4 linked regions of the Homo sapiens genome follow. The protein of the gene in region 1 interacts with the protein of each later gene in a biochemical or structural test. Each region holds a gene or a part of one and is shown in the gene's direction. Other genes may lie near its edges.

The links.
Region 2: the proteins of MAP3K2 (region 1) and IKBKG form a complex in vitro, tested with the Homo sapiens proteins (one study listed by BioGRID and IntAct).
Region 3: of the proteins of MAP3K2 (region 1) and YAP1, one has a biochemical effect on the other in vitro, tested with the Homo sapiens proteins (one study listed by BioGRID).
Region 4: the proteins of MAP3K2 (region 1) and NEDD4 form a complex in vitro, tested with the Homo sapiens proteins (2 studies listed by BioGRID and IntAct, with this or other methods).

The regions. Positions count from the first base shown.
Region 1 is NC_000002.12:127,297,197-127,302,156, reverse strand, and holds the end of MAP3K2 (mitogen-activated protein kinase kinase kinase 2), read left to right. Parts: 3' UTR 1-3,489; downstream 3,490-4,960. UniProt on the Homo sapiens protein: Component of a protein kinase signal transduction cascade. Regulates the JNK and ERK5 pathways by phosphorylating and activating MAP2K5 and MAP2K7. Plays a role in caveolae kiss-and-run dynamics.
Region 2 is NC_000023.11:154,557,526-154,561,119, forward strand, and holds part of IKBKG (NF-kappa-B essential modulator), read left to right. Parts: intron 1-1,006; coding exon 1,007-1,125; intron 1,126-2,881; coding exon 2,882-3,034; intron 3,035-3,594. UniProt on the Homo sapiens protein: Regulatory subunit of the IKK core complex which phosphorylates inhibitors of NF-kappa-B thus leading to the dissociation of the inhibitor/NF-kappa-B complex and ultimately the degradation of the inhibitor.
Region 3 is NC_000011.10:102,204,353-102,207,946, forward strand, and holds part of YAP1 (transcriptional coactivator YAP1), read left to right. Parts: intron 1-1,540; coding exon 1,541-1,722; coding exon of another isoform or gene 1,723-1,734; intron 1,735-3,594. UniProt on the Homo sapiens protein: Transcriptional regulator with dual roles as a coactivator and corepressor. Critical downstream regulatory target in the Hippo signaling pathway, crucial for organ size control and tumor suppression by restricting proliferation and promoting apoptosis.
Region 4 is NC_000015.10:55,857,613-55,861,206, reverse strand, and holds part of NEDD4 (E3 ubiquitin-protein ligase NEDD4), read left to right. Parts: intron 1-428; coding exon 429-546; intron 547-632; coding exon 633-800; intron 801-3,594. UniProt on the Homo sapiens protein: E3 ubiquitin-protein ligase which accepts ubiquitin from an E2 ubiquitin-conjugating enzyme in the form of a thioester and then directly transfers the ubiquitin to targeted substrates. Specifically ubiquitinates 'Lys-63' in target proteins.

The DNA.
Region 1 (4,960 bases):
GAAAGTAATTGATTTTACATAGTTCTTCCTGAACTTTTTGGAACTGAAATTCTGCCAAACATTATCAAAATAAGCTTCCTTAGCTTACCAAGTATTCACAAGGAAATTCTCTTGTACCTCTTTTTGGTTGGCTAGGGGAAGCATGCTGTGAAGCAGCTATTCCTACTTATAGTTGTCTTTGGCTTGGCTTTGACTTCTGCCATGGTTTGGACAGGATGCCATGGTAGGTGTGGGAAGTATCAGGGCCTCCCATCTTCCCATACTCACCTTCCAGAGCTGTTGATGGAAATGAGCTCTTGGGGGAGCCTAGAGATTCTTTTTTCAGTGGTCCTGTAAGCATTCAAGGTTGAGCTTCAGAAAGATGAGGGAGGAGTCATAGCTACAGTAAAGAAAAGAATAGATTTTATCTGTTGCCTGTATACAGTCTCATAGAATTCTTATTTTTCATAATTGTGCATTTTAATTGATAGTCATATGGTATTTTTGTTAATAACAGCAAAGGCATTAAATCAGTACCATTGTTCCTTCTGCCTGATGACTTCTTGTTTGTAACACAATCTGTATTATCAGAATCACTTTAAACCAAAGCTTTTATATTCCCTGTACACATAGCCAAAATAATTAGCACTGTTACTTCTGTCCACTTGTAAGCTAATAGTATAAAAATTATAAAGCAGATACTAGTAGAATTTGTATTCTGGTATATCCTTCAAGGAAAAGGACAGGTGATCAGTGCATTTAGACATCCAGAAGTTACTTCCACTATTGAGGAACTATGTAGACATGAATTTAAGCTTGTACATGTGCCAATCTTGTTAATGTCACTTGACCACTGATTCACATAGACAGACATTAACGTCTGATGCCTCAGGTTGATGGCGAACTTTCTTCCTAGTGTCTTAACATTTATGAACTTATGTTTGACTTGAGGGGCATTTCAGCAAAGCTGTGAGGAAAAGTAGGTTCTGGACTGATGTCTGCTTTGTGCCATAGACATTTTGGAACATAAGGAAGTATCTGCTTCTACTATATGTACAGGACTTGTCCCCAAATAATTTCTGAATCCCTTAATGCAGTTGAGAATCCCTTAATGCAGTTGAGAACAGTAAAGTTCATGACCATACCGAAAAGCACTTTTAAGTTCACTTCTTTTTAAATATTTTTTTAGAATTTATTTTTTAAAAGCATATGTAACTAGTGATGATTTTAGCATTAGCTTTACTTGGAGGGGAGAAGAAACAAAATTACACCTTAAACTCTATTAGATAGACTACAAAATGGATTTGATGTATTCTTACTTTTCCAAAGAATTTTTTCCACCTGGAATAAGAAGAGAGGACTAGTTGAAACATTTGAGCTGGAGAGGCTTATGGGCAATATGAAGTGGGCCAAATTCTTGCAATACACCCTATTCAATTGAAAGTACAGTGTCTAAGGATAAGAATACTTCTTTAAAGACCAACAATTGTTTTAATGCAATCTTAATTAGTAAATGGTTTACATTTTTTCTATTGTTATTGGTTTTAAAATTTGCTACCCTGAATTCTGAAATATTATAAGAGTTAATACCAAAAATACTTTTAATGTCTGACATCTCTTACATTTCACATGGTTCTTTTTATTCATTGTAAATAAAAGTAAACTTGGATAAATTTGAGAATAAACTTTGAATTGTTGCAAACTATGATTATCAATTTGTAAATTTACCCTTTGACATAATAATGTACATTTTTAAATGTAGCCATTAAATTCTCTATATTTAACCTATTGGTTTCTCTCTAAATGTTTTTAATCTCAGTTGAATGCTGGGCAGTTTATAATTATGTACAAAGGGTTTTTTTCCTATTAAGATTGACATTTTTGCACATTTTTGGAAATGTTTAATTTGTACACTGATTTACTACTCTGACCAATAATTGTTGATGAGTGTATGAGCATCATGAATGCGTGCATTGAACTACTGTCTGTGTCTTTATGTTTTAACTTCTTTCAAGATGTAGCCATCAGTTACTGCACTGCTATTACTGACTTAAATGGACCTTTTTGCTTTTACAAACTATACTTATCTATGGTTCTTTGTTGAAGAACTCAGGAGTTCGACATTAATAGAAATTAGAAAATTTTATAATGTATTATAAAATCCATTACTAAGTTGAAAGTATGCTTTTAACTGTGTATCAGGGGATGTATGTTTGTGTGGAGATGTTTTTTTCTGTCTGTAGGCACATGTATATATCCCAGTAAGTTCTTATTTTCATTTCATTTCTACATTTTTATGAACTTGTTTTATAAGGGTACTGTTTAGTTGTGATAATTAAATATATATAAAAGCTTTCTGAGAGATTATTTACTATATGAATATATTTTCAGCTGGCTGATCAAAAGTATTTTTAAAATTTTGTTTTTAGCCATTCAAAATGTATTTGTATTTTCAGAATTGAATGCAAGTCATACTTAGAGCTCAATTAAAATACTCTTGCAAGAAAAAGCATTAAATTCTCTTTGAGAATTCCGTGAAATGCAAATTAAGGGAAAAATAGGTTTTAAGCAGTAGCAAAAACACACCGCTAAAAATGGCCTTTGAATTCTCAGAGCTATGGAAAAATGTGAGAAACTAAATTGTCTCGAGATGTCAAGATTTTTCTATCTCCAGTTGCTATTGGCCTGTCCTACTGTTGTCTTTGAATATTTCCTGTATTCCACCCCAAAAGATTTCAACTTTTAGTTTTTCTATCACTGGGCAAGGTCAGACTGGGTTTATAAAACAATATATTGGCATATTGTGATTCTTTGTAATTGACTATAAATTGGTTTTGAAATGTCCAAACATACGTTGTGTGTCTTTATATTGTACTGTGTGTTTTAAGTAACTGGCAGAAAAAGAATTGGAAATGAAATTTCCAATCAGACAATGTAGTATTAAAGAAAACTTTGTTTTAAATATGCGGTACCATGTAAAATTACTCGTGTTAGGAATAAAGTCCACTGTTGAAGTTGAATGTCACTAAGCTTATTATGTTAAAAGGAACCAGTGTGATTAGGAAAACCTACCAGAAGCCAGATACAGTGTGGTACGTGCAACATTTCATGCACATTTTGATTTTGTTTGTCATTCAAAATTGTGCTTGTAAAAATGTATACAATTTCTGAGTTTTATAATTTCTAGGTACTTGTTTTTTCTTGCTGGTAAATAGCTTTTTTTTAAAAAAAAATCTAATATAAAAGAAACCATGTTTATATTTTGTTAGTGATCAATGACTTTGTTTATATGGAAATTTGTATATTGTTGGCACACATTTTGTTGAGGTTTACGTGCATGAAGGCCTGCAATAATTAGCACAATGAAAACTGCTTTTTCTTACATGTTCATTTTTTTGAAAGATTGTGGTGCAAAGGCTTACTCTAATAAGTAACCTTCTGGACTATGGAATGAATATAAATGAATGGCACTTTGAGTGTTAATAAAGCTAATATTTATTTCCACTGTGATTGGTTTTTCCAAATCTATTCTTGGACACATTTTATTTACAGTTATTCCCTCCTTGCTTGAGTTGAGCACTCTCTAGGAAACCAAGCGCAGACAAATCTAAAAACAATGAAACTAAACCAAATCTTTCCAGTATCTAAGTCTATAATGTTCCACCCAACTTGTAGTATATCTTTGGCTGGACATCTTGATTACCTAAATCAGAACTAATGATTAAAAACAAACACAAACCCTACTATCAAACCTACTGAGTATAAGGAATGGTCTCTCACATGGTGCTGGAGATTATTTATTTATTTATTTATTTATTTTGAGACAGAGTCTTGCTCTGTCGCCCAGGCTGGAGTGCAGTGGCATGATCTCGGCTCACTGCAAGCTCTGCCTCCCGCGTTCAGGCCATTCTCCTGCCTCGGTATCCTGAGTAGCTGGGACTACAGGCACCTGCCACCATGCCCAGCTAATTTTATTTGTATTTTTAGTGGAGACAGGGTTTCACCATATTAGCCAGGATGGTCTTGATCTCCTGACCTCGTGATCCATCCGCCTCGGCCTCCCAAAGTGCTGGGATTACAGGCGTGAGCCACTGCGCCTGGCGGAGATAATTTAATACTTTGGTATAGAGGGCAACTTAACACAACCTCAGAATTGAAACCTCAGAATCAGAATCAGAAACCTCAGAATTGGCCGGGCATGGTGATCCCAGCACTTTGGGAGGCCGAGGTGGGTGGACCACTTGAACTCAGGAGTTTGAGACCAGCCTGGGCAACATGGTAAAACCCTGTTTCTACAAATAATACAAAAATCAGCCACGTGTGGTGGTGCATGCCTGTGGTCCCAGCTACCCAGGAGGCTGAGGTGGGTGGGTCGCTTCAGCCTGGGAGACAGAGGTTGCAGTGAGCTGAGATTGCACCACTGCACTGCAGTCTTCATGACAGAACGAGACCCTGTCTTAAATTTCAGAACCTTGTATATCCTCTGACCCACCAATTTATACCTAGGAATTAACCTGTGGAAATAGATTGTGAATGTTTTAAGTTGTATCTATAAAAGCCCAAACTTAAAACTCTAAATGTCCAACAATAGGGGCTATTGTAACAAAGTACCACACATTAGGTGGCTTATAATAAAAAATTTATTGTCTCACAGTTACGGAGGCTAGAAGTCAGAAATCAAGGTGTGGGCAGGACCATGCTCCTTCTGACACCCATAAGGGAATCTTTCCTTGCCTCTTCCAACTTATTTTTATATATTAGAAATTGGGTCTCACTATGTTGCCCAGGTTGGCCTCATACTTCTGGGCTCCCACCTCAGCCTCCCAAGTAGCTGGGACTACATGTGCTCCATGGCGTTGTGTCCAGCTGCCTCTTCCAACTTCTGATAGCATCCCTTGGTTTGTGGCAGCATAAATCCGATCTCTGCTTCCATCAGCACGTGGTGCTTTTTGTGTGTCTATTGACACAAGTGTGTGTGCTC
Region 2 (3,594 bases), on another chromosome or scaffold:
CGAAGGGAGAAGGAGGGAGTCGGGAGGGGGCGAGTGCAGGCTCAGGTGAAAGATGACGGGGCAGCCAGCGTCCTTGCCGCGAGGCCAGCCGTGTGTGGGAGCTGCCGGTGCTTACCAAGGTTGGGATGCTTCCGTCCCGTGGAGACTGGGAGACTGGGCCCCGCGCCTCCTGAGGTTTCCGTTTCCAAGGAGTGGCTGCGGGGCCCTCGGGAAAGCCCCTGGGTTGTGGGTGCTACACAGATGTCTCAAAGGGACAGGGTAAGCCCTTTGTAGTAAATGCTGTCAGAAAGGGAGGTCAGGTGTTGGCCGGAACAGACAGTACATGCTCTGGGCAGCCCTGAGCGTTTCCAGACGGGAACTCACTCAAAAGGGGGCTGGGGCGTCCCAGGGGCGCGGCCTTAGGCTCCCAGAGGCCCCGCGAGGTGGTGGCCGGGTGTCTTCGGGCAGGGGTTTGAGTGCAGTGTGCCTGCCGAGAGGTTCTGCAGTTCCCAGTGTTTAACAAAATTCAGTGTCCACTCTTGATCTGCACAAACTCTCCCATCCTGGCGGCCCCGGGTGTGGACTGGGGCCTGTGTTTACTTTGCCCTATTCGTGTCTGGCCTCCTTTTGTCCCAAGTCTCAGAGAGACGGAGAGAGATCCCCTGCTGGGGCTGTAGCTGCAAGGCCACCGGGTTCAGCCCTCGAGGCCTGCTTGCCGGGGCAGTGACTAAGCCGTTGACAACCTCAAGGCAGCTTTGTGCTCCTTCGTCTCTTTGGGGATCTCTTTTTGCCCCATCTGTGTGTCACCCTGTGGCAGAGGGTTAAGGTGGGCAGCTGGGGAGGGTTGGGTGGCCCTTGGGCTCATGAGGCCCTAGGGCACCCAGGTTTGGGGGTGCCGAGGGCAGGAAAAAAGGCCTCATGGCGCGCAGGCCTCAGCCGCTTGCGGGTTGCCCCGGGCTTGCGGATGGCAGGAGTGGGCCGCTGGGGAGAAAGCAGTGCTGACAGGAAGTGGCTTTTTATCCTGCAGCAGATGGCTGAGGACAAGGCCTCTGTGAAAGCCCAGGTGACGTCCTTGCTCGGGGAGCTGCAGGAGAGCCAGAGTCGCTTGGAGGCTGCCACTAAGGAATGCCAGGCTCTGGAGGGTCGGTGAGTCGGGGGAGCCGGCTCCGGAGACCCCTTCCAGGGTTTCCAAAAGCAATGAGGTGGGTTTAGGGGCCTCCAGGGTGCTCCTTGATGAGGATAGACCGGGGCAGGCTGCGTAAAGACGTCGGGGCAGACGTCGGGAGAGGTCTGGGCCAGGCATCCGGGACCTGGGTCCCAGCCGGCTCTCCGCACTCTGTGACCCTTTGATGGAGTTTGGATTATTTCCTTAGGAGGCATTCTGGGGGCCCCGAGCCCACACCCACAGTGTCTAGTTCTCTGGAAGGACTTCTGGGACCGGCGCACAGTCGCCCTCGTGGCTGAGGTTGATGACAGGGAAAAAGGCACAGGGCAGGAGCCGCCAGGGCAGGAGCCGTGGGGGGAGTTGGAGAAGCCCTGTCCCAGCCTCCCGCTGCCCTGCGAGCGGCACAGTGAGAAGCGCCTCCCACACGGGCCGTGTTCCTGCCCAGGGATGCCCGCTAGAGACTCAGCGCCCTGGGTGTTTACTGGGGGCAGGTCCTGTCAGCGCCCTCTGCCAGGCAGGTACCTAAATCCCCGACTCCCAGCAGCAGAGCGGGTGCTCACGTCAACCACGTTCTTCCTACAAATGGCCTAGGTGCAGGGACCGACCTGACCACTAGAGAAAGTGTCACTGTGGCAAGGGAACTTCACCAGCCAAGGGCCAACCTTGCCAGCCGGTGGCCTCAGGCCTGCTGGTTACTCTCTTTTGCAAAGGGGTCTTGGTTCTTGTGAGTGGGACCATTGGGTCAAAGGGCAGGGAGGTTTCTGTGGTTCTCATTCGGTCCTGCTTCTGCCCTCCAGACAGATGGATCAGCTGCCAGGGGGGCCCCAGCCATCCCAGCACAGTAGGCGGTCAAGGTGCACTTGGGGCAGCCAGCAGGGCAGAGGGGAGGGGAGCTTGACCCAGGCTCTGATGGGCAGAGGGAACCCGTGCAGGGTGTGGGGGCAGTATGCAGGCAGGCGCGGAGGGGAGAGCCAAGCAGCCAGGCCTGCCAGGCAGAGTTGGGGTGACTGGAGAAGGGCCGTGTCTGCCTGTGGCCAGAGGCCACCCAGGACCTGGACAGATGCACCCACCATTGTCCCTGCAGTGAGGCTGTGGAAGGGCTTGGTGTGGTGGGATGAGGCCAGACCCTGGAAACTGGAGGTTAAGGGAGCTGTAGGGGGGCAGGTGTGGGAACTGAGCATCCGAGCAGGTCGTCTGGGACTCCAGCAGAGCTCTGGGCAGCAGCAGGGATGGGGCCGAGGCCCGGTCTGCATTGAGCTCAGTGCTTGCACGCCCAGGTGGGCAGTCTCTCATTTTTGGAACAGCAGTCTCTCCTGACCCCCTCCACTGAGACTGCTTTTGCTGGGGCCCCCAGCAGTCCCCCAGTGGAACTCCACGGGCAGTTCCGAGGGCTCCTCTCACCTGGCCCCAGCACTGCGGGATGCAGGCGACCCCATCCTTTTCTCGGACCACCCCCTTCCCCTGGCTTCCAGGTCTCCTTGCCATCTGTACTTGGTCACCTGCTGGGCCCCTGCATTGAAGCAAACACGTCTTAAGCAAAGCTCCTCACCTGCTGCTCCCACCTGGCCCCCTGCAGTTGTCCTCGTGTCTGTTGACGGTGCCTCCACCCTGCCGCCTGGCATCAGCTCGCAGTCACAGGGTGTTCAGAGCCGACCCCCACCCCCCGCCCACGCCCTGCGCATAGCCCCTGCCGTCCCCCCGTTCGTCCTCCCTGAGTCTGCTCTTTCCCCGTGCCAGGGCCCGGGCGGCCAGCGAGCAGGCGCGGCAGCTGGAGAGTGAGCGCGAGGCGCTGCAGCAGCAGCACAGCGTGCAGGTGGACCAGCTGCGCATGCAGGGCCAGAGCGTGGAGGCCGCGCTCCGCATGGAGCGCCAGGCCGCCTCGGAGGAGAAGTGAGTCAGCGGGGGCGGGGCCGCACCGCAGGGTCTGTGGTTCTACACTTGATCTTAGCCGAAAGGCTGAGAAGTGTCGGGTCCATGGTTCTTTCTGCCTTCTGAGGACTCCTTCAGATTCTGCCTGTGGCTGTGGGCCCATTCTGTCCCTTAGCCTTGCTAACGGTAGAGGCGACCATGATGACACCCGGTTTGTCTTTGATACAGTCATGCCATCTGCTCTCCAGACCACGTTTCACTGCGTGTCCACACGTGGCCTTTTTTGTAGTTTTTTTTTCCTAGCCACTAGGTCATCAGGGGACTTGTCCTTTAAAACCCCTTCTAGGCCAGGTGCTGTGGCTCACGCCTGTAATCCCAACACTTTGGGAGGCCAAAGTGGGTAGATGGCTTAAGCCCGGGAGTTCCAAGACCAGCCTGGGCAACAGAAAGACAACAAAAATACCCCCAAACCCCCCCGTCTACCAGCATCCAATCTGGGACCTCAGGTTCCTGTCCTTGGCGTGCCTTTTCAGTCTCCTTTAATCTAGAACAGTTCCCCTGCCTTTCTGAGCTGTTTGTGA
Region 3 (3,594 bases), on another chromosome or scaffold:
CAGCGCACACTTTGTGCCAGATGCTGTGCTAGGTATTGAGGACACATAGATGACTACGATATGACCCATACTCCTGTGGCACTCAGTCTGAGGGAGCATATAAATTTGTAAGTAAAAAATTAGAATCAGGCAATAAATGTCAGTAGACAATATGGAAAAGTTCCCAGGCAATTCCTTGAGAGAAGAAAATTCTTAATGTATAGGATGGGCCCAGCCTTGTGAGGTTTTGCTCAAGTAGTCTCCAAGAAGAAATGGCATTTACCAAGCAGCCAGTCTGTTATAATGGGACACATTAAAAATCACAAGGAGTTTGCTGTGTGACTGGGAGACCATTAAGTTATAAGAGCTGTCAGTGTATGTTATTTAGGATTTTTGTAGCAAGGTTTATATGAGAGATTGGCCTGTAATTTTCCTTTCTTTTAATATCCTTGTATGGTATCAAGGTTATGCTGGCCTTATAAGTGTTGGAAAGTATTCTTTCCTTGTTATGCTCTGGAAGAGGCTGTGTAAGACTGGTATTATTTCTTCCTTGAATGACTGCAAAGCCATTGGGACCTGGGGTTTTCTTTAGTCAATGTGTACTAAACATTTAGTAGAAACAGTGACCCAAAATTTCAACTTAAGTTGAATATGTATCTGAAAAGGTTTATTATTCTTACTAACATTTTCACATAAAACTTCCCTCTGCTCACTGAGGTTAATTCACAGTTTGATCAGTGTTGTATCAGTGACAGAAATTCACTAGTATAAAAACCCAGTCCATTTCTAACCACCAAATGGTGTATTACAGCTTCAAAAAAAAATTTTTTTTTTTTTACTACCTAGGCTTTGTGCTGGGGGTTACCATGGTGTCAAATGAGACAAATCCATGTCATCCAGATACTTGTGGACTCAATTTGATATGAGCAAGCATCAGATCATTTTAATCTACTTGCTTTATTGGGATGTGTATGTGGATATATTAAGGGCTGATTATTTTGATGGGCTTTGCTGTTTGGAATGCTTTGTCTTAATTTTTGTGGATGAATTTTTAATTTATATATTTCATAAGAAGTAATGAATTTGCATCATTCACACTTCAGAAGTTATAAATAAGGTTCTCCACCTTTGTCCTTTAGTCACCCAGTTTCCCATCTCTGGAGCCAAAAGATGTTAGTTGCTTCTTAGCTATTCATCAATTTTTATATCCTCTGAATATGCAATATATTCACCCCCGCTCCCTTCCCCCACCCCGTTTTTTTTAAACACTTTCTCTTCTGCACCTTGCTTTTAATTTAGTAAGTCCTTAGAAACTGTTCCTTATTGCATGTTAAAACTACGTCTTGTTTCTTTTCTCTTATGACTTCCTTGTATCTTGTGACAACAGTAATAATAAATTAATGTAGTCATTGTGATATTGATGGATTTTTAGGTTATTTCCAGTCTTCCTGCCCAAAAAAGTTACATCGAATATCCCAAATTGCTTTTGAATAATTAAATCATCATTTTATCTTCCTTCACTAGTTTTTTAGGACAGATTTTTTTTTTCTTTTCATTTCAGCCATGAACCAGAGAATCAGTCAGAGTGCTCCAGTGAAACAGCCACCACCCCTGGCTCCCCAGAGCCCACAGGGAGGCGTCATGGGTGGCAGCAACTCCAACCAGCAGCAACAGATGCGACTGCAGCAACTGCAGATGGAGAAGGAGAGGCTGCGGCTGAAACAGCAAGAACTGCTTCGGCAGGTGAGGCCACAGGTTAGAAACCAGCCTTCCACTTTTGGGGGTTTGTTTTCTTAAAGTTGGGCAGATTTCATTTTAACATTTATTAGTTACAGAGGAATGTTGTCTTTGTAAAACTGAGTGACACAGAAGCATTCTATCCAGCCCTGTCCTTGTCTTAGTTTTGTGACTGTGAATGGCCTTTGATCAAGTTACAAGGGATGTGACTTGGAAACCTGTATCATGAAGAGCTGTTTTGGTCATGGTCATTGCAATTGAGCAAAAATTGAAGGAAGCAAGGATGCTTTCTCTAATGTACATGGAATTGTGGATTGCTGTTTTTCTGAGGATTTCACTAAAGGGGAAATTCTAGAACATCACTCAGGAGAAAACATCCTTTATTAATAACTTACGTGGCGGGATACACCAATATGACATTTCTCAAATGACAAATATACTTCGGTATTACCGAATCTAAGAATTTTCATTGAAAACAAAATAAATGTTACCTTTGGCCAGGTGCGGTGGCTCATGCCTGTAATCCCAGCACTTTGGGAGGCCAGGGTGGGCAGATCACTTGAGGCCAGTTCAAGACAAGCCTGGCCAACTTAGCGAAACCCCATCTCTACTAAAAATAAAAAAATTAGCCAAGCGTGGTGGCACACACCTGTAATCTCAACTTCTCAGGAGGCTGAGGCACAAGAATCACTTGAGCTTCGGAGGCAGAGGTTCGGTGAGCCAAGATTGTGCCACCGCACTCAAGCCTGGGTGACAGAGTGAGATTCTGTCTCAAAAACAAAAAGTTATCTTCAAGTTTAGAAGATGCCAGTGTGCTTTAAAATTACCTGCTTATGGATGTTTTTTTATTTTGGGGAAAGTAGGACATAGTAGAGAGCTTTGAAGCCCTTTAATCACCAATTCCATCAGCTTTCTTCCAGAAGGTACTGTTGGTTTTTATGTTCCTAATATATATAATTAATCTCAACATTAATTTTTACTTTATCTTATTTCAGAGTGGTTAAATCTACTAAGTTCAGATATTGGAGATAAGGTCTTTTGTTAAGTAGCGTAGATATTTTTAAATTTCCATATAAAATTTTTTTGAATAGATAATAGAAAAATGGTATACTAGTGATAGATGTACAGAGGTGAAAGTACACTCAAAATAAGATCTTTTCCCTGTTTTTCTAGTTCTCTCCTATGGGGCCTAAATAACTATGAGTTTCTTAGGTTTTTTGTTTTTTGTTAATTTTTCCAGAGATACTCTGTTTACATACATAAAATACATGTATCTGTGCCATTTTTTCCCTAGCTAAATCACAGCATGCTAAGTATAGACATTTAAAAATCGTCATACTCGGCCAGGCATGGTGGCTCATGCCTCTAATCCCAACACTTTGGGAGGCCGAGGCAGGAGGTTTGCTTGAGCCCAGGAGTTCGAAACCAGCCTGGGCAACATGGCGAGACTCTGTCTCTTAAAAAAAAAAAAAGCTCTACATTTCTGTTACCAGGAAGGAGGCACCTAAAGGTCTGTTTTTTGTTTTTTGGGTTTTTTTTAGGGCTGTATTTTAAAAGTATCTCTTGAGTGTCAGTGAAAATATGTGAACTCAGTACTACCTGAACTCTGATTTGGGGTTTGAGGAATTGGTACTTCAGGAGTTAAATTAAGCCATGGCATCTGAGACAGGCTCACGTTGAAACTGTGCTTTGTCGGTAATCTGTCCATACAATTCTAGTGTGATTGGCATCAAAGGTAAACCCTGATAGAAGGAGTAAGACAGTATGTGCCAACATACGATGTCAGGAACTTGTTGGGGCTCAGAAAATGATACTCCAAAATATGGTTCTTTGACAAACTAAGGAAGCAGCCTCAAGTTCTATGCCAAAGCACAGGAT
Region 4 (3,594 bases), on another chromosome or scaffold:
GACCAATTCTAGAAAATGTACTATCTGATTCACAAAGATGTATGTATGTGTAACTCTATTACTCTTATAATAACATGGCAAAATAATACAATGAAATAATCTATGAAGCGCTCTGATATTTATTCATTCAACAAATATTTTTGAGTACCTATATGTGTTGGACATTATCCTAGACATAGTGACAAACTAAAATATCAAATCAGACATGTTATACCTTTTCACAAAACCTTAAACTCCGTAAGGTACTCTAAATATACCAGTCTGCCTACCCATGATTGAATCTTTGCATGTTGAAATAGCCTTTGGTCAAAGACAATAAATTTTTTTATTGATGTAATGTAGATTTTTTTCCCAATGATCACAGAATCTTTGACAATCATTTTAACTACTTAAGACATGGATGATGGCTTTTTATACTTCCAATATAGGGACAACCTAACAGATGCTGAGAATGGCAACATTCAACTGCAAGCACAACGTGCATTTACCACCAGGCGGCAGATATCCGAGGAAACAGAAAGTGTTGACAACCGAGAGTCTTCCGAGGTATAAGTAGTTTCCTAGTTCTCCTTGAAAGACACATGCTATAGCAATAAAGTATGTGTGGCTCAAGCTTATTCTGTTCATTTTAGAACTGGGAAATTATAAGAGAAGATGAAGCCACCATGTATAGCAACCAGGCCTTCCCATCACCTCCACCGTCAAGTAACTTGGATGTTCCAACTCATCTTGCAGAAGAATTGAATGCCAGACTCACCATTTTTGGAAATTCAGCCGTGAGCCAGCCAGCATCGAGCTCAGTAAGATGCTCTTAGATTTTGTTACGGCTTCAGTAGTTTATATTATGCATATTATACTATTCAACAACTAACTTTTATGTAAAATTTTGTCTTAAATGCAATAATATGTAATAATACATTAGGGACCTTGGGACTTTACAACATGGTCATTTTTCAAATATCCTCATTAGTAGTATGGACCAGAGTCATGGCATCCAAATTTCCATTATGTCAGTGCCCTCCAGTCAAAAATCACTAGGGACACATTTGTCATTGAACAAGTTGGGTTTATTATTCATTTCAGCAAGGGAGAACACGCACCATTGGTGTTTTGGTAGCAGAATGTTAGAAAAGACTTCAGGGATTTGGGCTCCTGTTAGGTGATTTTGAAGAGGGTTTTAGGAAGCAGGACTTTGCTCTACATGAGATGCTGTTGGGAAGCAGGGATAATTCTATGATTTTGTATCTCAAATCTTATCTGTAGTGAGGCTAAAGCTATGATTAGCAAAGTAGAACAGTCACTCACATTTGCCAGGATGGGGAAATGTTTGGTATTTTGTGGCTTGGACAATGTTCATGTTTTGTCTATATTCAGCCACGATTACAGAGTGGTCTTGATTTTGTCTTGATCTTACCTATGAGTGCCAGGCCAGCTCTTGGATGTTAGGGACTGCTTTTCTCTCTCCCAGTTATGCTGAAGTTGGTTTTTTGTTTGCTTGTTTGTTTGTTTGTTTTGAGACATCTCACTCTGTCACCTAGACTGGAGTGCAGTGGTGCTATCTCGGCTTACTGCAAACTCCGTCTCCAGCTTCAGGCGATTCTCATGCCTCAGCCTCCTGAATAGCTGAGATTACAGGCGCACACCACCACGCCCAGCTAATTTTTGTATTTTTAGTAGAGATGGAGGAGTTTCACCCTGTTGGCCAGGCTAGTCTTGAACTCCTGGCCTCAAGTGATCCACCTGCCTCAGACTCCCAAAGTGCTGGGATTACAGGCATGAGCCACTGCTTCTGGCCTGAAGTTTTAACATTATATCACAGATGTCACCAACAGGTATATATGAATAAGAACTGATATACTTTGACTAAACAAGGAGATAGATGACATTTTCACTTCAGCCACCACTGTAAAAACTGTTGTCCATAGGGTTCAGAATAAAGTATCCCAGCATATGCTTCCACGATGAGAACTTCATAGCTAGCTGTCTAATATGTATCATCAAGGGAGATTGAGTAGAAGACAAAGATTATTCTCTGAGGATGCTATTTGTCATTTCCAGTTGAGGTTTCCCTGCCTTTCATTTAGTTAGTAAATATTTAATGAGAGCTGATCACATATATGCAGAGTACTATATGCTAGTTACTGAGGATACATCAGTCAATAAAATTAACAATATCTCCTGCCTTCATGGGACTTACATTCTAGTGCAGAGGAAAGCAAACTACAACCGGTGGGCCAAATCAGCAGCTGCCTGTTATGAATAATTACCATTGGAATACAGCCACATCATTTGTTTTGGTATTGCCCATCTCTGCTTTCACACGACATCATCTGAATAAAGTAGTTACAGCAGCAACCATATGGCCCACAGCCAGTATTTACTGTCTGGATCTTAACAGGAAATGTGTGCTAACCTCTGCTCTAGCATCTTCTTCAAGAAGCTTCACAGTAGATAGTTGTACGTGAATATGAATATCTGCCAGTAAATCCGCCTGCCTGCCTCCTGCCCTTCCTTTCTTCCATTTGTCTGTTCTGTCTTCCATTCATTTCATTTTTTCACAGGGGAGTGGGACAGGTCAGTCAAAGACCTAAACTACATTAGGCCAGGCGTGGTGGCTCACGCCTGTAATCCCAGCACTTTGGGAGGCTGGGATTATAGATGGGTTGAAGTCAGGAGTTCAAGACCAGCCTGGGCAACATGGCGAAACCTTGTCACTACTAAAAATACAAAAATTAGCTCGGTGTGGTGGTGCACACCTGTAATCCCAGCTACTTGGGAGGCTGAGATTGGAAGAATGGCTTGAACCCAAGAGGCAGAGGTTGCAGTGAGCCGAGATTGCACCATTGCACTTCAGCTTGGGTGACAGAGTGAAACTCCGTCTCAAGAAAAAAAAAAGAATAAACCATATTGATTTGCTGATGATAAATCACATACGATCCCATTCCCCTTCTTCCTGGTATTTTTTTTACTTAAAGTAATACATGGCAACCATATAGTGTAATACTATGCAGCCATTGAAGAGAACAAGGTGGGCTCGAGTGTATATGTTGGATGGAACAATCCCTAAGAGATGCTGGTAAATGAAAAACAGCAAGGTACAGAACAGTGTGTTTGTTACACCAGAATTTATGTAAATTATTTAAATGCAGAGCATAAATATGTGTATAATTTACTCGAGGACTAAACAGGAAACTAATAACTTTGCTTGCCTCTGAAGAGAGGCAAAGAATGAGCAGGATATATATTGTTTGTACCTTTTGTTTTTTTGAGATAGGGTCTCACTCTGTCGCCCAGGCTGGAGTGCAGTAGCATGATCATAGCCCACTGCAACCTCAAATTTCTGGGCTCAAGGGATTCTCCCACCTCAGCCTCTGGAGTAGCTGGTACTACAGGCACATGCCATTGTACCCCTGCTAATTTTTTTAAAAAATTTTTGTAAAGACTTGGTATAGTATTGTTTCCCAGGCTCCTTTTGAATTTTATAACATGTATGAGTGTTACCTATTTTAAAAAATATTTTTAAAGCACTGTATGGTTATGGTTACAAATTGAGATTGTATTTAGGTATATAAAATAAAATTTAAGACTGGGCAT